4 separate regions of the Homo sapiens genome follow, and regions 2, 3 and 4 are each linked to region 1. The links come from fine-mapping of genetic effects on gene expression. A gene starts in region 1. Each other region holds a variant in brackets. All regions are shown on one strand. Distances are between the middles of the regions. Region 1 holds the start of RADIL (Rap associating with DIL domain). Region 2 overlaps RADIL (Rap associating with DIL domain). Region 3 overlaps RADIL (Rap associating with DIL domain). Region 4 holds the start of MIR4656 (microRNA 4656).

The links. PIP is the estimated chance that this variant, and not a neighbour inherited with it, causes the effect. A credible set is the group of variants that fine-mapping cannot tell apart.
Region 2: its variant is the best candidate, but not a certain one, in a credible set for the expression of RADIL in sun-exposed skin (GTEx, PIP 0.75).
Region 3: its variant is the best candidate, but not a certain one, in a credible set for the expression of RADIL in left ventricle (GTEx, PIP 0.55).
Region 4: its variant is the best candidate, but not a certain one, in a credible set for the expression of RADIL in prefrontal cortex (GTEx, PIP 0.69).

What each region holds. Positions count from the first base shown.
Region 1 is chr7:4,880,871-4,886,486 of GRCh38, reverse strand. It overlaps RADIL (Rap associating with DIL domain), which reads left to right and starts at 2,771. Exons shown (of 15, transcript NM_018059.5): 1 at 2,771-2,891. RefSeq lists a silencer at 2,740-2,959 and enhancers at 2,669-3,356, 3,357-4,045, 3,775-4,069.
Region 2 is chr7:4,801,787-4,807,402 of GRCh38, reverse strand. It overlaps RADIL (Rap associating with DIL domain), which reads left to right. Exons shown (of 15, transcript NM_018059.5): 10 at 1,687-1,837; 11 at 3,649-3,857; 12 at 5,408-5,616. Among named protein-coding and RNA genes, the nearest start is that of MIR4656, 16 kb to the right of the region's middle. The variant T/C (reference allele first, on the strand shown) is at 3,186.
Region 3 is chr7:4,815,631-4,821,246 of GRCh38, reverse strand. RADIL (Rap associating with DIL domain) reads left to right here. Exons shown (of 15, transcript NM_018059.5): 7 at 3,896-4,008; 8 at 4,782-5,019. Among named protein-coding and RNA genes, the nearest start is that of SNORD165, 19 kb to the left of the region's middle. The variant G/A (reference allele first, on the strand shown) is at 3,300.
Region 4 is chr7:4,786,103-4,791,102 of GRCh38, reverse strand. It overlaps AP5Z1 (adaptor related protein complex 5 subunit zeta 1), which reads right to left. Exons shown (of 17, transcript NM_014855.3): 10 at 4,675-4,853; 11 at 3,327-3,469; 12 at 2,809-2,949; 13 at 2,152-2,263; 14 at 1,174-1,271; 15 at 512-644; 16 at 216-430. MIR4656 (microRNA 4656) reads left to right here and starts at 2,464; the gene lies at 2,464-2,538. The variant G/A (reference allele first, on the strand shown) is at 2,657.

The sequences.
Region 1 (5,616 bases):
AGCCCCATCTCTACTAAAATTACAAAAATTAGTCAGGCGTGGTGGCAGGTGCCTATAATCCCAGCTACTCAGGAGGCTGAAGCAGGAGAATCGCTTGAACCTGGGAGGCAGAGATTGCAGTGAGCCAAGATTGCCTCACCGCACTCCAGCCTGGGCGACAGAGCAAGGTTCCATCTAAAAAAAAAATATATATATATATATATACACACACACATTTGAAAAAAAAGAAGTTAGCCAGGTAATGAAGTTTGCTGTTATGGTCTGAATTTTGTCCCCCTAAAATTCACGTGTTTGTTGAAGCCCCGACCCCTCACACCTCAGAATGTGACTATATTTGGAGACAGGGCCTTTAAAGAGGTGATTAAGATAAAATGAGGCTGTTAGGATGGGCCCTAGTCTAATCTGACTAGTGTCCTTATAAAAAGAGGAGATTGAACACACAAAGAGACAGGTGAGAGGTGCACACCCAGAAGAAAGGCCATGTGGGGGCACAGCCAGAAGGTGGCCGTCTGCAAACCAAGGATAGAGGCCCTCAAAGAAGCCAAACCTGCTGACAACTTCACCTTGGACTTCCAGCCTCCAGAGCTGCCAGATAAAACATTTCCGTTTTTCGAGCCACCTGATCTGGCATTTTTTAATAGCAGCTCAGCTAATCTAATACAGTTGGAAAAGGTGTTTGAAGGTCAAGGGACCGGCCTGAGGGAAGATCTCGAGGCATGAAACAGCATATTCATACCAAAAAGTCAGCATTTCTAGATCAAGAAGCAATCTGAAAAGTTTCTCTATAAAGGGCCAGGTCATATTTTAGATATTTGGGGCTGTAAAATCCTGGTTGCAGGAAAGCAGTCGTAGATAATATCTAAACAAATGAGGGTAGCTGTGTTTGAATAAAACTTTATTTACAAAAACAGAAGGCAGCCCAGATCTGGCCCATGGGTTGTAGTTATCCGACCCCTGTGGAAGAAGGATGTGGGGACTGTGGGAGATGGGCCAGGAGCAGGGTGAGGAATATCTCAGGAGGAAAACCCAGGCCTGAACCCAGGCTCTCCTTCAGCTCTGACCATTGTCTCTTCATGCGCACCTGAATGAAATATTCAAGCACGTCATTCCTTTCAAGCATCCCTTCCTGGGGTAGGCGAGGAGGTTGGTGTGTATACAGAGGGTCCTGTATTCCTGGCTCAGTTCTTGTCTCTACCTCCAGCAGCCTGACCTCTCTGCGTCTCTATTTTCTCATCTGAAAAATGGGAGTATTACTGAACAAAAGGGTTCTGCGCTTGCTCTGCTAGAAGCCAATCTTGATCAGGTGCAGAGGTTCATGCCTGTAATTCCAGCACTTTGGGAGACTGAGGTGGGTGGATCACCTGATGTTAGGATTTCAAAACCAGCCTGGTCAACATGGCAAAACCCCGTCTCTACTAAAAATACAAAAATTAGGTGGGCGTGGTGGTAGGTGCCTGTTAACCTTAGCTACTCGGGAGGCTGAGGCAGGAGAATCGCTTGAACCTGGGAGGTGGTGGTTGCAGTGAGCTGAGATCACACCACTGCACTCCAGCTAGGGCAATAGAATAAGACTCTGTCTCCAAAAAAAAAAAAAAAAAAAAAAAAAAAAAAAGCCAATCTTACTGCATTAAGTTTTTGAGACAAAAGCTTTTTTTGTCCGTATTGTGAGTTGATCAATAAGGAGACAGGAGCCTGGCTCAAATCTGTCTCTCTGTGTTGACTTTGAGGCACTATTTTTTATTAGAAAAGGTTTAGGAGGTGGACTTTAGGATTAGCAGGTGATAGGTGGAGGAAAGGGGAGGCCTGGAATGTCTCAGACATCTCTGTCTCACAAGAATTGATGTGAGCATTAAGTGAGGTGACCTAGGTAAAGTTGCCTAGGGCCTGGCACACAGGTGGTCAATAAATGTCTGTTCCCACACTCATCAATGTCTGCTCCGACCTCCATCGCGAATATGGGGTCATGACTACGGAAATCATACCACGATAGCTGTCCACAAAAAGGTTCACTCCCGAGGCCCACATTCTGCATATTGATATTCCGAACCACCTGAATCTCCCAGGTCTAGCCCACATTCCTCAAAGGGAAAACCCCAGCCAAAGTGCCGAGGTCACGAGCTGCTTTTTAAACAAGTCCCCAGGGAGAGCAGTTGGGGCCAGAGCCCCAGAGCTGACCTGGTCATTTTTTTGCATAATTGTAAGCAGGAATGCCATGACCTGATTTGTCTTTTAAAACTCTGGGTGGGAGACAGATGGTAGGGGAGAGGAAATTCCTCCCTTGTTCCTTTTCGATGTCTTAGAAGATGTTTATTAATTGGGGGCACAGCTCTACCCTCCCCTACACCCACTCACTGGGCTACTAGAAGGTGCTGTCTCGAAATAGCCCACCCAACCGCAGGAGCCCAGAGCCCACAAGCAGCTCAGGGACTTAGAACTGGTCCCACCCTTCCTCCGGGGACCCCCCCTCCTTAAGCTGCAGTCTGTGGGTGGGCTGCAAGTCCCGCCTCTCCACAACCAGCCCCACCCCTTTCTTCAAAACCCCGCCTCTCCGGTGAGGCCCCGCCCCCTCGAGGCTGCATCCCCGTCCATTGGGCGGCCGGCAGGAGGCGCCAGAGCACAGCCCGCCTTTTCTAGCAGGTTGGCCCCGCCCCTCTCCTGGAGACCCCGCCTCCTCGAGGCTTTCTTTCTGCCTATTGGGCGCCGAGGCCCAGCTCCAGCCCACCTGTTCTCCCCCGCCCCACCCTTTGTGGCCCCGTCCCCTTGAGGCCCCGCCCCGCCCGTTGCGCCGCCGGCAGGAGGCGCCGCGGCACGCGCGGGTCTGGGCGCCGGCCCCAGCCAACGGCGGGTGGGAGCAGCGCGGGAACGTGGCGGCGCGGCGGGTTGTGCCGGAGGTGAGTGTGGGGTGCGCGAGGAGTGACTGCGGAACCGGGGGTGGCTCGTAAGGGGCGCTGCTCGGCCGCTGCCGGGGACCTGGGGCGCGGAGGCCGCGGGGCGCGCTCGGGGACACTCCCGGCCGCTGGTCGGGGCGCGGAGGGCAGGTTTGCCCAGTTGCCATGGGAACCGACTGGCTGTCGGGCCCCGGCCTGGACCGGGGGGCGGTACCCGGAGGCCGGCTAGCGCGGGCAAGGGCGGCCCAGCCTGCGGGGATCCGGGGGTCCGCGCTGCCGACCCCCGAGAGCTCCTGAGCCTGGCTGTCCGCGTGGGCCCCGGACCCCCAACTCCAGGGGACTCTCGGCCCTCAGTTTTCCCGGCTGTGCCCTGGAGGGGGAGCTTCGTCCGGGGCGCGCAGCGGGGGAGCGGGGCGCAGCGGGGGAGCGGGGCGCAGGGTTCCGCGCGCTCTCCCACCTGGGCCGGCGAGACGTCCCCTGCACATACCCCGTCCCGGTTGCAGCCCGATCCCCACTCGTGCGCCAGCTCAAAGCATTGTTTCCCGGCTATTTATGTACCATTTCCAGCCCCTCGACAAATACTGCATCCAAGATAACAGATGCTGAGCCGAGCTCCTGGGGCCTCGCAGGAGGAGCCTGTTGGTGGGGTTGGCAGGGCCCTGGCGGGGCTGCGGACCATCCTGCCCTGCCCTGTCGCCTGTCAAGTGTTTGGCTAATCTGAATTGCACAGAAGAATCTGATTGCTCGTGTCCCGCGGTTAATATAGGCCACCTCTTGTGCATTCCAGACAGGAACCAGTCTTGAAAGTCCCTTTTGCTGGGGGGCAAGTCGGTCTCCTCTCCAGCAGCTAGCAGGTCAGAATTAAATCTGATTGAATTATGTTTGCATTTGAAAGCGTGGCTCGGGCTGGGGCTGTAAAGATAGGATTCATGGAAGGAGGGGAGAGAGCTGAGTGTGTAAAGTCTGCGCTTCGTTTTCCCTCCTGCTGGAAATGATAATGGGTTCCACATTGTCCTGTTGGAGCAGAGAGGTCGCTCCACCCATGTCGTCAGCGCAGCACTGACCTCACTCCCTGTACTCGCCGCTGGGACTTGAGCTTGTTTTTCATCAGAAACTGGACCCTTCCTTGAGAACAAGAGAAAACATTCTCTAAGAGCAGCACCAGCCAGCGCCCCACACCCTCGCTGTCCGAGCCCTGCGCTTTCCCCAAGTATTTGTGTCACAGAGGAGCGAATGGGGCAGAAGAGGCCGGTCGCACTTCCAGAAAAACAGATCTTGTTACCCAGGGCGTGCTCCGCCCGGTCGGATTTTCCTGCACTCCCCTTGGCCTTTTAAAAAACGAGTCCATCCCATTCTCACAAACAGGCCAGGCTCCGCCTTCTGGGATTCGGAAGCGGGCAGCGTGTGAACAAGTGGGCACCCTCTGGTCTGGCCAAGGGAGGATGACCAAACGGAGAGAAATGCTTTCTGAAAATCCCAAAACAGATAAGGTTTGTGTAACAGGGACTTCTGGGGGCTTAAGAAGGAGTTATTGGAAAGGAGTCAATCATATTCTCTCTGCTTACATTTTCTCCTGTTTCATGATACTGCTAACTCTGCCTCTGCCTTCGAATCCGGCTCCGGAAACTGTGGGAAAAGCAGGGGTGGGGGGAAGTGGGGGGAACAACATTTCTGAAGTTCAAGCTTCTAAGACCCTGGGAGGAGACCTAGCAGTTGTGTGTTTGTAATTTTCTATTTGTTTTTTATTAAAGAAGAATTATGTAAATGTCAGACCTTACAAAACATATATCCACCCCTGGGCCCCAAATATCAACTCACTTTTCCATTGTATTTGGGGGCCTTTTTATAATTTTTGTCTTTTTTTTTTTTTTTGAGACGGAGTCTCACTCTGTTGCCCAGGCTGGAGTGCAGTGGCGTGATCTCGGCTTGCTGCAACCTCTGCCTCTGGGGTTCAAGCGATTCTCCTGCCTCAGCCTGCCAAGTAGCTGGGGTTACAGGCACCCGCCACCATGCCCAGCTAATTTTTGTATTTTTAGTGGAGACAGGGTTTCACCATGTTGGCCAGGCTGGTCTTGAACTCCTGACCTCAAGTGATCTGCCCGCCTCGGCCTCCCAAAGAGCTGGGATTACAGGCATGAACCACCATGCCCAGCCAATTTTTGTCTTTTTTTTTTTTTTTTTTTTGAGAGGGAGTCTCACTCTGTCGCCCAGGCTGGAGTGCAGTGGCATGATCTTGGCTCACTGCAAGCTCCGCCTCCCGGGTTCACGCCATTCTCCTGCCTCAGCCTCCCGAGTAGCTGGGACTACAGGTGCCCACCACCACGCCTGGCTAATTTTTTGTATTTTTAGTAGAAAAAGGGTTTCATAGTGTTAGCCAGGATGGTCTCGATCTGCTGACCTCGTGATCTGCCCGCCTCAGCCTCCCAAAGTGCTGGGATTACAAGCGTGAGCCACCGTGCCCAGCCATCTTTTTTTTTTTTTTTTTTTTTTTTTTTTTAACAGAGAGGGTCTCACTCCATTGCCCAGGCTGGAGTGACGTGGCGCAATCATAGCTCACTGTAGCCTGGAACTCCTGGGCTCCGGTGATCCTCCTGCCTCAGCCTCCCGAGTAGCTGGGACTACAGGTGCACACCATGCCCAGCTAATTTTTTATTTTTATTTTCTGTAGAGATTGGGATCTTGTTATGTTGCCCAGGCTAGTCTTGAACTCCTGGCCTTAAGCCATTCT
Region 2 (5,616 bases), 79 kb after region 1:
GCACAGAAGTGAGAGTAGAGAAGGTTCTAGGAACTCACAATCAAACAGAACCACCCCCGGGCAAACCAGAGGCTTTCTTGAAGGGTGTGTAAGGGGTGAGGGTGGTGGGGGCCGGTGGTGTTGGAGGACGTCGTTCTGTGCCCTCACCCCTCCTGCACGACGCCCGAGACACCGATTATCCTTCAGCGTGGACATCTGGTAGCCACAGCCCAGGCCCCTGGATATGGGCAGAAAAACACATGGGAGAGAAACAGAGCGAGGAGGCAAAGGTGAGAACAGAGGGGACCCAGCAGCGAGGCCACATCCAAACAGTGGGAGTCCAGAAAGAGCCAGCAGAGGGGTGGAGGGCGCGGGGAAGGCAGGTGCAGGCAGTCTCCAGAGCCACGCATTGAGGTGGAGGAGCTGCTGCCAAGAGTGGGCTTACAGCAAAACTCAGCATCCCAGGGCTGCAGGACGATGGGTGCAGAGAACCCACAGGCTTCCAGACAAGAATCAGTACAAGGCAGACCCTGAAGATTTGCACTCAGGTTGCTTTGGACGAGCAGCACGGGAGTCACAGGACAAAACAGCACCTGCAGAATCCGAAGGGTGACGCCCTCCCGCCTGGAGTTCTGTGCCAGCCAGATGACCAGTCCAGGGTGGAGGTGAAGACAGTTCCAGCACGCAGGGCAGTGGGTTTCCTGCAATGCGCCCCTTTTGGGAAGCTACTAGAAGATCTATTCCATAGAAACAGGACAAACCAGAGAGCTGAAGAAATGAATTGCAGAAAATAAGAACCGGCTGGGAGCCGGGGAAAGGAACCCCAGAAGGATGATGATGGAGGTCCTGGCGGGCCGCAGAGGCTGTTTAATTTTATTGGAGGGATCCACCCTTCCTTACGGTGTAGGCTTTTTGTCTTGCCTAAAACGTTTTCCTGGGCCGGAGCCAGTGGCTCATACCTGCAATCCCAACACTTTGGGAGGCTGAGGCGGGAGGATTGCTTGAGGCCAGGAATTTGAGACCAGCCGTGGAGTTTGAGACCAGGAGTTTGAGACCAACATAGTGAGAACTCCATCTCTACAAAAAAAAACAAAAACAAAAAACTAATGAGCTGGACATAATGGTGCAAGCCTGTGGTCCCAGCTACTCAGGAGGCTGAGGTGGGAGGATCGCTTGATCCTGGGAGGTCGAGGCTGCGGTGAGCTGTGATTGAGCCACTGCACCCCAACCTGCGTGACAGCATGAGACTCTGTCTCAAAAAACAAGCAAACAAACAAATGTTTTCCCTGCCTCCTGTCACCTAAATGATGAATGTCCCTGCCTTCCAGGCAGGTTTTTAGCCGACTTGATTGATTTCTTTCACACCGTTGGAGGCAGGAATCTGATTTCACTGTTCATTTCCCAGTAGTGGTTTCTCTGGTTGGCGGCCGCCTGTGAGGCCGGCCCTTGCTTGAGACGGGGGTGGGTTCCCTGGGCAGGGGGTTCCCGATGGCACTGGCCGGCCTCTCCCTGGAGCAGCTGCCCTTGGAAGTGCCAGGGGTGAACTGCTGCTGTGACACCGTCCCCCTCACAGATGGCCCCTGGTGGGAGTGAGGACCACAGGGCCCCTCAGCTGGCTACCCCCAGGCCACCTGTGGAGGCCATCCCTCTTTGGGCTGGGGTCTGCACCCAGAGACCTGTGACCATGAGCTCCTTCTTGTCACCCAGATGAGCTGGACAGCCCTGCGGGCTGCGTTCCCCGCACTGAGCCCAGCACAGCTGCACCGGCTGCTGACTCACTACCAGCTGGCCTCGGCCATGGGCCCCATGAGCACCTGGGAGCCAGGGGCCCAGGACAGCCCCGAGGCCTTCAGGTCAGGTAAGCCCTGCCCCAGGGCAGGAGAGGGCTGGGGACTCAGTGGGAGACTCGCCCCGAGGCTGGAGGCAGCATGCTCTCATCCCAACTGAAGTGGGGTGTGGGGGACCTCTCTCCTGGGGACCTCCCTGGAGGAGCCTCCACCCAGAGGACCCCCCCGCCCCGCCCCATCCCCAACCTGGGGATCCGGGGACCTCCTCGGCGGGGGAGTCAAGGAGCCGAGAGTCCATGCCCAAGTTCCAAACTCCAGGCTCAGGTCCAAGGCCCCCTCGTTCCCTCACGGAGCCGGAGGATGGGGCCTCCCCTGTTGTATGGCTACCCAGGAAGGGAGCAATGGTGGTACACAGCCGTGGGGACGCATCCCTGAGCCATGTATGTGCACACGCACACACACATGTCCATACGGAGGGGTCTGTGTGCGCATACATGTGTACGTGCATACATAGGGGTGCGTTTTATTTTATTTTTATTTTTGAGACAAGAGTCTTGCTCTGTCATCCAGGCTGGAGTGCAGTGGTGCAATCTCAGCTCACTGCAACCTCCACCTCCCAGGTTCAAGCGATTCTCCTACCTCAGCCTCCCTAGTAGCTGGGATTACAGGTGTCCGCCACCACGCCCAACTAATTTTTGAATCTTTAGTAGAGACGGGTTTCACCATCTTAGCCAGGCTGGTCTCGAACTCCTGACCTAGGTGATTCGCCCACCTCAGCCTCCCAAAGTGCTGGGATTACAGACATGAGCCACCGTGCCTGGCCGAGGGTGCCTTTTATTGATTGATTGACTGAGACAGAGTCTCACTCTGTCACCAGGCTGGAGTGCAGTGGCTCGATCTTGGCTCACTGGAACCTCCACCTCCTGGGTTCAAGCGATTCTCCTGCCTCAGTCTCCCAAGTAGCTGGGATTACAGGTGTGTGCCACCATGCCTGGCTAATTTTTGTATTTTTGGTAGAGACGGGGTTTCACCATGTTGGCCAGGCTGCTCTCGAATTCCTGACCTCAGGCGATCTGCCTGCTCCTGCCTCCCAAAGTGCTGGGATTACAGGCGTGAGCCGCCACCCCCGGCCAGGGGTGCATTATAATGTGTAGATTATACACACATCTCCCTTCATCTGCATTATGTGTTAACACCTCAACAAAACAGAGTACGGGATGGCGGGAGGCGCAGAGGCGATGGGGCCTTGGATGCCCCCCCGCAGCCCCGGGTCACCGTGGAGAACATCTCTGAACAGGAACCCTGGCTCCACCTGACACCTTCTAAGTCCTTCCTCCGCATTGATTCATTTCTGTGGCCTGAATTCTGTGCTGGGAGCTAGGAGCTCAGTATGCACGCACTCTTCCGCCGCCTGAAAGG[T/C]GCTCCTGTTCCTGGGGGCAGAGAGCAGCCCGCACACAGGCCGTTTGGGTCCCGTGATTCCTGCAGGGAGGCAGTCGGCTCCAGCCCTGGGAGGAGCTTGCGTCCAGCTCTGCCGGGCTGGGGGAGCTCCAGTTACCCGGAGACACCATCAGAGACCAGTGGGGCAGAGACAGGCCCAGTGCAGAGCGGCTCAGTGGGGCTGGAGGGTTCCTGGCTACAAGGCCTTGTTCTCAGTCCTGAACTGCTCGGATGTCACACCGGGTGGTCGGCGGGAATTCAGAAGGGATGAGTCCTAGGGTGGGGCCAGTCACTGTGGCCAGGATCCCAGCCTCCTGTGTCCACAGGGCAGGGGACTCAGGGCTCAATCTGCTGGCCCCTGGGTTCCCACACCGTTGGGCGGGGCGGCCTGGCGAGGGAGGCAGCTTCTCCTGTGGCCATTACGGGCATCCTCTCTCCCCTGCAGAGGATGTTCTGGAGTCCTACGAAAACCCCCCACCCATCGTCCTGCCCAGCGACGGCTTCCAGGTGGACTTGGAAGCCAACTGCCTGGACGACAGCATCTACCAGCACCTGCTCTACGTCCGCCACTTTCTGTGGGGTCTGCGGAGCAGAGCCAGCCCCGGCAGCCCTGGCAGGCCTGGCAGTGGGGCCTCCCAGCCAGTGTGCCCCGAGGTACCCGGGGAGGGGGCCCCCCAGCCAGCGTGCCCCGAGGTGCCCGGGGAGGGGACCCAGCCAGCGTGCCCCGAGGTGCCCGGGGAGGGGGCCACCCAGCCAGCGTGCCCCGAGGTGCCCGGGGAGGGGGCCCAGCCAGTGTGCCCCGAGGTGCCCGGGGAGGGGGCCACCCAGCCAGCGTGCCCCGAGGTGCCCGGGGAGGGGACCCAGCCAGCGTGCCCTGAGGTGCCCGGGGAGGGGGCCACCCAGCCAGCGTGCCCCGAGGTGCCCGGGGAGGGGGCCCCCCAGCCAGCGTGCCCTGAGGTGCCCGGGGAGGGGGCCCAGCCAGTGTGCCCCGAGGTACCCGGGGAGGGGGCCCCCCAGCCAGCGTGCCCCGAGGTGCCCGGGGAGGGGACCCAGCCAGAGTGCCCCGAGGTACCCGGGGAGGGGGCCCCCCAGCCAGCGTGCCCCGAGGTGCCCGGGGAGGGGACCCAGCCAGCGTGCCCCGAGGTACCCGGGGAGGGGGCCCCCCAGCCAGCGTGCCCTGAGGTGCCCGGGGAGGGGGCCCAGCCAGAGTGCCCCGAGGTACCCGGGGAGGGGGCCCCCCAGCCAGCGTGCCCCGAGGTGCCCGGGGAGGGGACCCAGCCAGCATTCCCCGAGGTGCCCGGGGAGGGGGCCCCCCAGCCAGAGTGCCCCGAGGTGCCCGGGGAGGGGGTCCAGCCAGCATTCCCCGAGGTGCCCGGGGAGGGGGTCCAGCCAGCATGACCCGAGGTGTCTGGGGAGGGGGCCCCCCAGCCAGCGTGCCCCGAGGTGCCCGGGGAGGGGGCCCAGCCAGCGTGCCCCGAGGTGCCTGGGGAGGGGACCCAGCCAGCGTGCCCCGAGGTACCCGGGGAGGGGGCCCCCCAGCCAGAGTGCCCCGAGGTGCCCGGGGAGGGGGTCCAGCCAGCATGCCCCGAGGTACCCGGGGAGGGGGCCCCCCAGCTAGAGTGCCCCGAGGTGCCCGGGGAGGGGGTCCAGCCAGCATTCCCTGAGGTGCCCAGAGAGGGGGTCCATCCAGCATGCCCCGAGGTACCTGGGGAGGGGGCCCCCCAGCCAGCGTGCCCCGAGGTGCCCGGGGAGGGGGCCCAGCCAGCGTGCCCCGAGGTGCCCGGGGAGGGGGCCCAGCCAGCGTGCCCCGAGGTACCCGGGGAGGGGGCCCCCCAGCCAGCGTGCCCCGAGGTACCCGGGGAGGGGGCCCAGCCAGCATGCCCCGAGGTACCTGGGGAGGGGGCCCCCCAGCCAGCGTGCCCCGAGGTGCCCGGGAGGACAGGAGAAGGGTTGGAAGCTGGGCTGGGGGCAGCAGGCGGGAGCTCTGGGAACCCCGGGAGTCCTGGCCCAGCGCAGGCTGTGCTCCGGATGGCGGGGAAGCCCCTTTGCCTCTTGCGCGTCTCAAGCTGCACAGGCTGCGGGAGTCCTTTGCTGACCTCTGCCCCGCGGCCTGGCGGCCCTTCTGCTGCAGGCTGCCCAGTTGCCCGAGTGCTGTGTCCACCTGGCCACTCCTCTACCTGAGCTGTCACCCTTCCTCTCCCTAGGGTATGCACCACGTGGTCCTTGACGGGCACCTGGAGGCCCCGAGCTGCCCCCTGGCTCCCAGGGACCCTGGCCCAGCAGCCCGGGAAGTGGCCCCGGAGCGTACTCTTCCCTTGAGGGGGGCTCCCTGGGCACAGGCCCCCCCTGGAAGGCAACCCAGCCGTGGGGGCTCCCAGGCTGGCCCCCCGCACACGGACTCGTCCTGCTTGCT
Region 3 (5,616 bases), 65 kb after region 1:
GCACAGTGCCAGAGGGTCCTGAGTGGCCGTGGCGTGGCGGTCTGGCTTCTGGAGGATCCGGGTAGGGAGTGGTGCATTCAGAGCTGCTCCAGGCTGCGTCTCTGAGCTTCGAGGGAGGCGCAGGCCCGGTGTGCAGGGACAGGAGCTCCCACAGGCTCAGTCTACCAGACGCTGCGGGGTCTCTGTGTACTCAGCTGTGTCCCCATCCCTGGGAGGGGGCTGTGGCTGTGGCTGCATCTGAGACAGCCCGGAGGACACAAGGCCAGGCGAGGTACTGGCCAGGCTGTGTTGGGGGCGCTGGGACCCTGCTGTGCCCCCCCATGCCTTAGGGGCAGGTTTCCTGAGAGGAGGGGCTCTCCGTGGTGAGAGGGAGGTGGCGGGGCATCTGCACAGTGACCCTGTGGTGGGACAGGCTCCCACAATGCGTCGGGGCCCAGTCCTCAGCCTCCGGGCGGGGGCCGGGCTGCAGAGACCAGGCTGGACTGAGGGCGCGTGGAACAGGCCGGGCTGGCCCTGGCCATGAGGTTGTGGGGTGGGGCCCCCGCTCCTGGGGGAGGCAGAGCCGGCCAGGATCTGTCCGAGTTCCTTCCTGCCGGCCACGGTTCCTTCCCACTGTTTCCTTCTCCCCTCCTTCACAGGGAAGGGGATGTGGGGATCTGCCAGGGTCTCCCCAGTCCTGGGAATCGGGGCTGCCTTCAATATGTGGGGGTAGTGTCAACCCCTCCTGGCCTTGGTGGGCATCCGGGCATCTGGCCTGTGCCCTTGCCCCCCACGTGATGGGGCAGCCCCTGCCTGTCCATGGGGCCTGGGCCTAGGGTAGACCTTTCCTCTGGCTTTTTCCTGGAAAGTGACGTAAACGACTGTGGGTCCCTAAGTCTCCACGCAAGGTTCCCACCTCCAGCTGCCCAGCTACAGGCCTCCCCTGGGGCTCCTGGGCTCCCGGGACTACAGCGCCCGTCGCCTCTCCCTGCAGACCTGACTCTGCCATCCTCCAGGGCTGGATTTGCAGCCGGCAGGTGGCCCTGGGATGGAGGCAACTCCGGAGTTGCGGCCGGCCAAGGGTGACCCTCACTGACCTTGCAGTGCACTTGGTCCTTCCGTGTGACAGGGGGACGGGGCCAGCTTAGGAGCCCCTTTTGTTCCGGCCCCCACAGGAAGAGTCAGCTCAGGGACCTGTGATTTTTCGGCTCTGTGTTCCTGGAGAGTCCCCGGCTGACTTTCCACGTGGCTTCGTGGCTGCCTGGGTTTGGTGGCCGCAGGCAGCTGGGTCCCATGTGGTCCCCGTGCTGGCTGCTCTTCATGGGAAAAATTGCTCTGGGCTGTTGGAGCTGCTGCCTTTGGTCTTGGGAGGAAGTTATTTTTGGTCAGGGGCCTGAGCAGTGTTTGGCCCGGCGATGGGAGCCAGGGCCCAGGGATGCCTGCAGGCTCCGGGTGTCGAGGGCCAGGCAGGCACCAGGGAACAGAGTGGGAAATAGCCCCTAGAAGGGGCCGGAGGGGCAGAGCCCCGTCAGCCTCCCGACCCTCTGCAGGAAATGTCTGTGGGAAGAATTCGGAGAGCAGGGCTGTCGCGTCCCGAGGGTGGGTCACGTGGCTGTTGTCATTCCGCAAACACTGTTTTGTACAAAGCTCTGACCCAGGCCCCTCCCGCGCCGCCTCACACCATCGTGTGCGCCTCAGATTCTCCTCGTGGCTGGAGCTCAGCGCCTTCTTCTTTAGGGATAGGGCCAGCTTCCTCAGGGGTCCTGGAGTTTCGGGGCAGGGCAGGGGCAGCCGGCTGGTGTGTCCTCTTAATGGCTCGTGGGCGTCGGAAATCCTCAGAAATGCCCACCAGCCCTGGTACCACAGGGAGAGGCGTCTCCGGGGGTTTAGAAATGGAGTCTCAGGGCTGGGCTCACACCTGTCCTCCCCGCACTTTGGGAGGCCGAGGCAGGCAGATCACATGAGGTCAGGAGTTTGAGACCAGCCTGGCCAACATGGTGAAACCCCGTCTCTACTAAAAATACAAAAATTAGCCAGGCATGGTGGCATGTGCCTGTAGTCCTAGCTACTTGGGAGGCTGAGGCAGGAGAATCGCTTGAACCTGGAAAGCTGAGGCTGCAGTGAGCTGGGATTGTGTCATTGCACTCCAGCCTGGGCGACAGAGTGAGACTCTGTCTTTAAAAAAAAAAAAAAAAGAGAGAGAGAGAGAGAGAAATGGAGTCTCAGGGCCGGGTGCAGGGGTGCATGCCTGTAATCCCAGCACTTTGGGGGGCCAAGGCGGGTAGATTGGAGTTCCAGACCAGCCTGGGCAACATAGTGAGATCCCATCTCTACCAAAAATTAAATAAAAGAAGAAATGGAGTCTCAGGCCCGTGGTGGGTGGCTGGAGGCTGCTTTGTGGTTTCATTCAGCACAGTCCCTGCCACCTTCTCCTGTCATTCCCATGCCCCGTTTCCCTCTTCCCACCAGTGCCCCGCCCCTGCCCAGGGAGTGATGTGGGGCTGGGTTCTCAGACCTGGCAGCCTGAGGCAGCCAGGGTCAGGGCACCAGGACAGGTGGACGGGACAGAGCTCAGCCTCCTGACCCGCCTGCCGTGGCTGTGAATATCCTTTGCCGGCACTCGCTGTGGGCGCCGTCGGGCCACCTTGTGTGTCTCCACAGGCCTGGAGGCTTCTGGGCACAGTGTTGAGGTTGGCAGAGCCCGAGAGCCCCTTACTGCCCCGGACCCCGGGGTCCCTCCAGCTGCCCTGCCTGGTTCCCAGATGTGACCCTGTGGGGCAGGCACTGGGGGGCTTCACAGGTTCTTGGGGAGCGGGCTTGGTGGGTGGGGGCCAGGCAGCCCCAAGCCCCTGAAGGAGGAGCACCAGGAGCGGCAGAGCGAAAGTGACAGGGGCTTGTCCAAGGGCTTGGCGCACCATTGTCCTGGCCATGAGTGGGCCGGCCTCCGGTGCAGTCTGCCCGGCAGAGGGGCAGCTGGGGGCCTGTGCTCCTGGGAGGCCCGCGCTGGGGTGAGTGTTGGCCTGGCTCACCAGGCGCCGCCCATGCAGCCCTGGCAGGCGGCCTGGACAGGCAGCCCCCACGATGCGGCCCCTCTGCCCCTCCTGGAAGAAGGCCCCACAGGAGGGAGAGGAGGGGAGCTGTGGCCGCCCACGCGGCTGACAGGGAACACCACTGTGGTTGGCCGCCCACAGTCCCAGGAGAGAATGAAGGCGCCCAAAGGCGGAACACCCAGGGTCCTGGCCCCTTCCCCAGGTGCTGATGGGACCCTCAGTCACTGAGACCACCACATGCTCCCTCACTTTCTGGAAGCCCCCGGGGAA[G/A]GCTCCACCCTGTTGGGGGCCTCCCACCTTCACAAGAGCCCCCACCCAGACGGCAGGAACCACTCCGTGGGCAGCTCCCCCCAGCCTCAGCTCCAGCCGCCCCGGCTGACACCCGGGGGTGGGGGTGAAATAGCTGATTTGGGCTTTTTCTTCCCAAAAGACTTATGATTCCACAGAGTGGCGGCCACTCAGGGGCTGCTGCCAGAGTCCTGTGACCCGTGTCGCGAGTGAGAGGTGACCTGTGGGGAGGCAGTTAGGACCTGCTATGTTGGGTGCAGTTGGTTGTAACAGAAAACGTATCCAGAACGTGGGAGTGAATGAGCGCTTGGGCTGGGCTGGGCTGGGCATTGAGATGTTGGGTGTCTGGACCCCTCCTGCCCCTCCCGGCATTCCCCTCCCCAGGTAAGAGTGGCGGCAGGTTTGCTGCGCTCGTCCCAGCCAGGGCCCAGAGTCCCTCGGCCAGTTTATCGCATCTGGACCCCAGATGGGCGCGTTGGGTGGTGCCCGCGCCAGGGAAAGAGCTGGCGGCTGGCTGAGTTGCTGCGTTCCTGAGCGCTGTGCCCGTTGTGACCATTGGCGTGGCTGTCTCCCGGCAGGCTCGAAGGAATCGCTGTTCTCCTGCACGCTGACGGCCAGCGAGGAGGCCATGGCGGTGCTGGAGGAGGTGGTGCTGTACGCCTTCCAGCAGTGCGTCTACTATGTCTCCAAGGTGCACGGACGGGCTCTGCTTCTGCACTCAGGCAGCTCCTGGGATCAAGTGGGGCTCAAGCTTGTGCCTGTGGCTCTCCTAAGGAGCCTTCTGGGGGGCTGAGGGAGGGGACCGTGACAAGCTCCACTTCATCAGGGAGCAGTGGCTGCAGGTTCTGCACAGGCCCAGCTGCACCCCCCACACCCGCTCCTCCTCAGGTCGCACAGAAGCCCTAGAACCATCCCAGCTCCCTTTCCCTCGCCTTGAAACGCCCCCTTCCTGCCAGTATTTCGAGGGTCAGGGATGAGGTGGGGGAGGCCCCAGCATGGGGCGCAAGGGACATGGCCCTGTTGTCACCCTGGACCCACGGGTGCCAGAGGTGCTGCCGCCGGTCCCCCTGTGGCCCTGGCCAGCTTGGGGTGCATCGGGGGTGCGGTGAGCCACTTTCTGGGGGAGTGGTGACTCTCCCGTCATTTTGTTGGAGCCCCTTTGTTGGAGCCCATCCCCCCAGGCGCCACCTCTGTGCGCCTTCTGAGTTCATCTGTGCCTCCGACAGCAGATCCCCCTGAGCCCCCTGCACCCCACCTCTGCTCCCAGCAGCCCCAGGAGGCAGCTCCTGTGTCCCCACATCCCACACTGGACATTTGCAAAGCCATGGCCTGTCCAGCAGGAAGCTACCGAGGCCGGGTCCCTGCAAGCAGTGCGTGGGTGGGGAGCTCGCTGGGTCAGGCCCCCCGTTCGGCCGCCAGCGCTCCTGGAAATGCTGGTTGCTGTTCTCCTCTTGCCCCCGCCAGTCCCTGTACATCTGCCTCCCGGCACTCCTGGAGTGCCCGCCATTCCAGACGGAGCGCCGTGAGAGCTGGTCCTCGGCCCCCGAACTGCCCGAGGAGCTGCGCCGCGTGGTGTCTGTGTACCAGGCAGCCCTGGACCTCCTGCGGCAGCTGCAGGTGCACCCCGAGGTGGCCTCGCAGATGCTCGCCTACCTCTTCTTCTTCTCCGGGACACTGCTTCTCAACCAGCTCCTCGACAGGGGTGAGGGCCTCGTGCAGGGTTGAGGGGTCGGGGGCTCACATTCCTGGACATGACGGCTGCTGGCGCCTCCCTCGCCAGCTCCTGGAGGCGGCTCTGCCCTTTTTGGCCTCCTGCTCCCTGAGCGTCTGGTGTCCCTGAGGGGTGAGAGGCCAGAGTGAGGGGGGACAGATCAGCACAGCGCATCCCGTAGGAGCCAGGGTCCCATCGGGGTTTCAGAGAAGCCACGGCCGAGAGGTCTGCATGGGACCCCTTCCCCGTGACAGGGAGGGAACGGGCTCAGGGCATCATTGGACTGTCCCAGAACTGCCCGGTGGACATGTCAGGGCCAGGATGGAACCCAGGTCTGTGCAGCCGCGGACTCTGGCCTTGGACCCTGCCTTGTGGAGTGACTTCCCCCATCACCTGCAGGGCTCAGGAGCACTGGCCACTCCCAGCCAGGGCCACTGTGGGGCGTGGGGAGACCCAGGTGGGGGCAGGCCCCCGGCACATGTGTCTGGGAGTGGGAGAGGGTCCCAGCTAGGGGCTGCACTGTGGAGTCAGCGGCAGTCACAGCCCACCCTGCCCTGCTACGTTCACCTCCCACCGTACCCCCGCTCC
Region 4 (5,000 bases), 95 kb after region 1:
GGTCCCTCCGTCAGCTGCAGATGCTCCCCTCCCAGGACAGGGGTCTGTGTGGAGGGGCCAGGCCTGAAGCGCCCAGCAGAGTGGCTTTAGCTCAGCAGGGCCCACCCAGGACCTGCGCTGCTGCGACCATTTCACAACACCTGGATGGGAAGACCTCAGAAGCCACCTCTCTTCCCCAGGAGCCAGAAGGCTTCGCTCCCTCCCTGACCAGGCACCTGGGGATCAGATCTTGGCTCCGGGAGGCCAGCTTCGTCAGCGTGGTCATCAGCACGGTGACCACCTGGGGGGGACACCTGGGCAGGGCAGCAGAGGGGCGGCACTGGGTGACCTCGAATAGCAGAGCCTCCAGGGCTTCGAAGAACTTGTTGATCTGCTCCACGGTGCACCTCCGATCGTAGGTCACCGACAGGTACTCGCCGATGGCCCACACCTAGGCCCGGGGACAGAGATTCAGCCCCCACCCAGGCCTCCTGGGTCAGGAGCGGCTGTGGGAGGCCAGCGCCCGCCTTACCACGCTGGTGACGAGGCTCGCCCTGCTGCAGAGACCATTCACGCTGCCCAGGAACTCCAGCAGGTCTCTTGCCAGCTCCACCACCAGGGAGGGTTTCAGCGTACACAGGGCCAGGAACTGAGAACTCAGCACACTGCCCAGAAAGCCGGGTCTACGCCTGCTCTGTGCAGACCTATGACCCCATCCCCATCCAGGCCAAGGGCCTGGAGAAACCCGGGAAGCGTCTGAGTGGTAGGTGTATGCTGCACCCTCCGATAGAGGAACACAGAAGACTGCCAGCCTCAGAGAAACTGTTCTCACTGGGGAGAAGGCTGGCACCAGCGCTGGCCTCAGGCCCAGGCTCAGAGTGGAACCAGGATGGGCCTGCATGCATCAGGCCTTTGGAGAGAAGGACCCCAGGGGACAAGACGGGGAAGAGGGACCTGAGCTAACCCTGAAGAGGACAGGCTCGGCAGAAAGAAGGACGGGAATGTTCTTGAGAAGCAGAGAGAAGTGCCTGGGGCTGGGTGTGGGGCTGTGGGTGGGGGTGGCAGGGTCTGAGGCTGCTGAGGGCCCAGCTAGGGGTGGTGCCGAAGCCACTGAAGGGGAGGGGGGAGGGGAGAGGGGGAGGAGTCCAGGAGGCACCCGCCCAGGGCTGTGGCAGGAGCGCAGGAGGGACCTACCTGTGCACACCGGCAGCGTACCCTGGGGCCGGGTAGAGCGAGTCGCTCCTGCCCAGGAGCAGCAGCGCCAGCTGGTTGATCAGGGACCCGTCAGCCACCTGGGGGTCAGGAGTGGGAAACAGGCTCAGCCCCACCCCCACTGCAGGCCCTAAGGTTGGGGGTGAAGCCATGGTGAGGGCTGGGGGGCAGGTGAGGGGCTGGAGACTCCTCGTCCACTGCCTTCCCCAACACCCAGGGACACAGAGACTCAGCTGGCAGCATCCGGGCACAGGGAGGGAAGCCCTGGGCTGGCCCAAGTGCCCCCGGCAGAGGTGTCGCTTCTGTTCCACGGCTCCTCTGCCAACTCCCGCTCTGCAAGGCCAGGCACACGTCTTGTTTGGCCAAGGGTGCGCCCAAGCAACGCCCAGCCCCCTGCCGGCCTCCCCACCTCCCAGGCTCTCCTGCACTGGCTTGTAGAGCTCCCCGAGGTGGGAAGCAGCAATGGGGGAGATGGGGGGCACCAGCCTGTGGGAGCCTTTATTTTGGCCTCAGATGGGGATGCTGAATTATCAGGGGCAGCAGGGGGACAAACTGCTCCGGCCCCAGCTGTGTGGCCAGAGCCCAGGCCACTCACTTGCCCTGTCCTGGGGACGGAAGACAGGGCCTGCTGGGGCAGTTGGATGGAGCCTGCTGGGATGGGAGACAGGACCTGCCGGGATGAAGGGGATGGGACGGGGATTGGGGGACGTGGCCTGCCGGGATGAAGGGGATGGGACGGGGACTGGGGAACGGGGCCTGCTGGAATAAAGGGGATGGGACAAGGGACGGGGCCTGCCGGGGCTGTGGCATGTGCCTCCCTGACCCTCACAGGGACCGTGGATGGTGGGTGTGGCGGGAGCAGCCTTCTGCAGAGCTCAAGAGGGCCCCCCAGTGCTGGCTCTGGCCTGCCCCTCAGTTGTGAGGCCTGTGGGAATGGGGGGCCCCAGGCAGCGAGCTCACCTGGGTCACTGCTGAGAAGAATGCCTGCAGCAGCGTGGGCACGGCCTGGGCACACTGGGCCACGCGGGCACAGCCGGCCATGGGCTGCAGCAGCTGGTGGAGTGGCGCCAACCTGAGGACACAGTGTGGCCGTGAGTGCTGCCCGCTCCCCGACCTGGTGACTGCAGGCCGGGGCCACGTCGCCACTGCTCCCTCTCGCACAGCTGAGCCCGCTCCCATCCTCACTCATCGCCTCTCGGGACCTCCTGCTCCCCTGGGTTTGGGGAGACCCCTGGCGTCAGCACACCCGGGACAGTAAAGCCATCGGGACAAAGGCTGGCGTGGGCTGAGGGCAGGAGGCCTGTGGCCGGTCCCAGGCCTCCTGCTTCCTGGGCTCAGGCTCGGTTTGTCCATCTGCAAAATGGAGCACCCACAGGGCCAACCTCCAAGCTTATGAGGGTTGATGTGGGCAGCAGAGAGAGCTGAGACCAGGCCCCGCCCCCGGCAGACCCGTGGTGCAGAAGCA[G/A]GGCCTCTATAATGGTGATGACGGGGACGCAGCCTTGTGTGGGACACAAAGCACCCTGGCCTCAGCCTAGGGCTGAGCAGTGAGCCCCACCCCAGTGGCTGTGGCCGGGCTCTCTGAGCCACTGGTGGCCCCCTGGCCCTAGGGCCCCGTACCTCTCAGTGGCGCCACTGGCCTTGGGGCGCAGCAGGTATTGGAAAAGACCCTGGAACTGCGGGTCCCGGAAGGCCTCCAGGCAGCTGGGGGCCCTGAGAGAGGTGTCCCAGAGTGGCCTCTCGGATGCAGCCGGTGCTGACCTGCGTGGACAGACGCCCAAGGCCAGGCTGGGATGCGGCCCCTGCACTCAAGGGCACCCCCGTCAGGGAGACACACGGCAGGTGTCCCTAATATCACAGCACCTCGGGTGCCAGGAAGGGCTTGGCATGGGAGGCTCCAGGCCTGGGCGTGAAGACGGGTGAGGCACTCCAGGGTGCAGGGGCTGCCCTTGGCAAGTGGCCAAGGGTGACAGACACACCCTGTCCTAGAGGTGGCTTTGCAGGGGAGGACTGGTCAGGTGTTGGGGGGGGAAGAAGGAGGGTCCCCGGTGTAGGGGTCAGGAGCAGCGAGGAGGGGGCCCAGTGTGTGGAACCAGCTGGCTGGGAGACGCAGCGCTGGCAGAGGGTGAGGGGCCCACCTGAGCTGCAGGTCCAGCACCGCCGTCAAGCAGGGCAGGTCCAGCAGCGCGTGCAGCATCTCCAGGGCTGTGCCAGCGTCCACCAGGGCCGGGAGGAGCGCCACAAACTCGGAGGTGAGGGGTGGGCTGTTCCAGGCCAGGAACTGTGGGCACAGCACAGCGGTTCGGACACGGCTCGGAGCTGTGGAGCAGGCGGCAGAGGGAGGAGCCAGCTAGGGCCCCACAGCTGTCCCAGACCTGCAGTCCCCAGGAGGGCTTCTACCTTTGCCTCCTCCCGCTTTTTATTTTTTTGAGACAGGGTCTTGCTCTGTCGCCCAGGCTGGAGTGCAGTGGTGCAATCATAGCTCACTGCAACCTCAACCTCCCAGGCTCAAGTGATCCTCCCACCTCAGCCTCCTGAGCAGCTGAGACTACAGGCACACACCACCATGTGAGGCTGTTTACTTTTTGTAGACAAGAGGTCTCCCTGTGTTGCCCAGGCTGGTCTTGAACTCCTGGCCTCAAGATCCTCCTGCCTTGGCCTCCCGAGGTGCTGGGATTACAGGTGTGAGCCACTGCCCCCAGCCTGTATCTACTTTCGTACCAACAGGTCAATAATTTTCCACTGTCCTGGTTTTTCTCCAGAAAGAGGATTCCCCACCTCAGTTGAAAAGACCTTACAGCGAGGCGAGGCTGCAAAAGACACTTCAAAAGCAAATGGCACCAGGCCGGGTGCGGTGGCTCATGCCTGTAATCCCAGCACTTTGGGAGGTCAAGGCAGGAGGATCATCTGAGGTCAGGAGTTCGAGACCAGCCTGGCCAACATGTCGAAACCCCATCTCTACTAAAAATACCAAAAATTAGCTGGACATGGTGGTGGGTGCCTGTAATCTCAACTACTCAGGTGGCTGACGCAGGAGAATCGCTTGAACCCAGGAGGCGGGGGTTGCAGTGAGCTGAGATTGCGCCACTGCACTCCAGCCTAGGTGACAGGAATGAGACTCCATCTCAAAAGAAAAAAAAAAGGCAAATGGCACCCAAGTGCCCAAGGCACCAGGCAGGGCTCCCGGGGGAGGGATCCTACCAGGCAGCAGCCCTGCCCCAGTGCTGTGAGAACAAACTCACCGTCTTGTGTCACAGCCCCCTCTCCAAAACACCCACAAGGGAGTTCTTGGACAGCACCGTCAATCACGTGACGCTGCAGGGACACCCCAGATCCCCACCTCACCCTGCACACCGCATTCCAGGCCCGGGACTCACAGGGCTCTATGCTCAGCCAGGACTCGCCCTGAACCCCGCTGGAAAGAGGGGAGGAGCCCCAGGGACTTACCATGCCCCTGCCCTGGCACCCAGGGATGCCCAAATATACCTTAAAGAGGTTGGGGAAGCTCAATCTGAGGGTGCTGAGGTGCCCGCTGAACAGGTGGAGGTTGTCCCTGCAGAACTGGATGAATTCAAAGGCCAGCATGGGGCTGTGGAACTGCTCCACCGGGATCCTGGTGAACAGGTGCTGGTAGACGGCTTCCGAGTCCACTGCAGCCGCTTCCCCTGCAAGACCAGGGCCCGCCAGGGCACACGTCTTGACCTCGCCCTGGCCGTGCTTCTGTGACTGGTTAGGGGCCCTGAGTCTCAGGCCTGCTCTCCAGGACACCAAGGGCTCCGAGGCGTCCTACGCTGGGACGCTGGGGAAGCGGC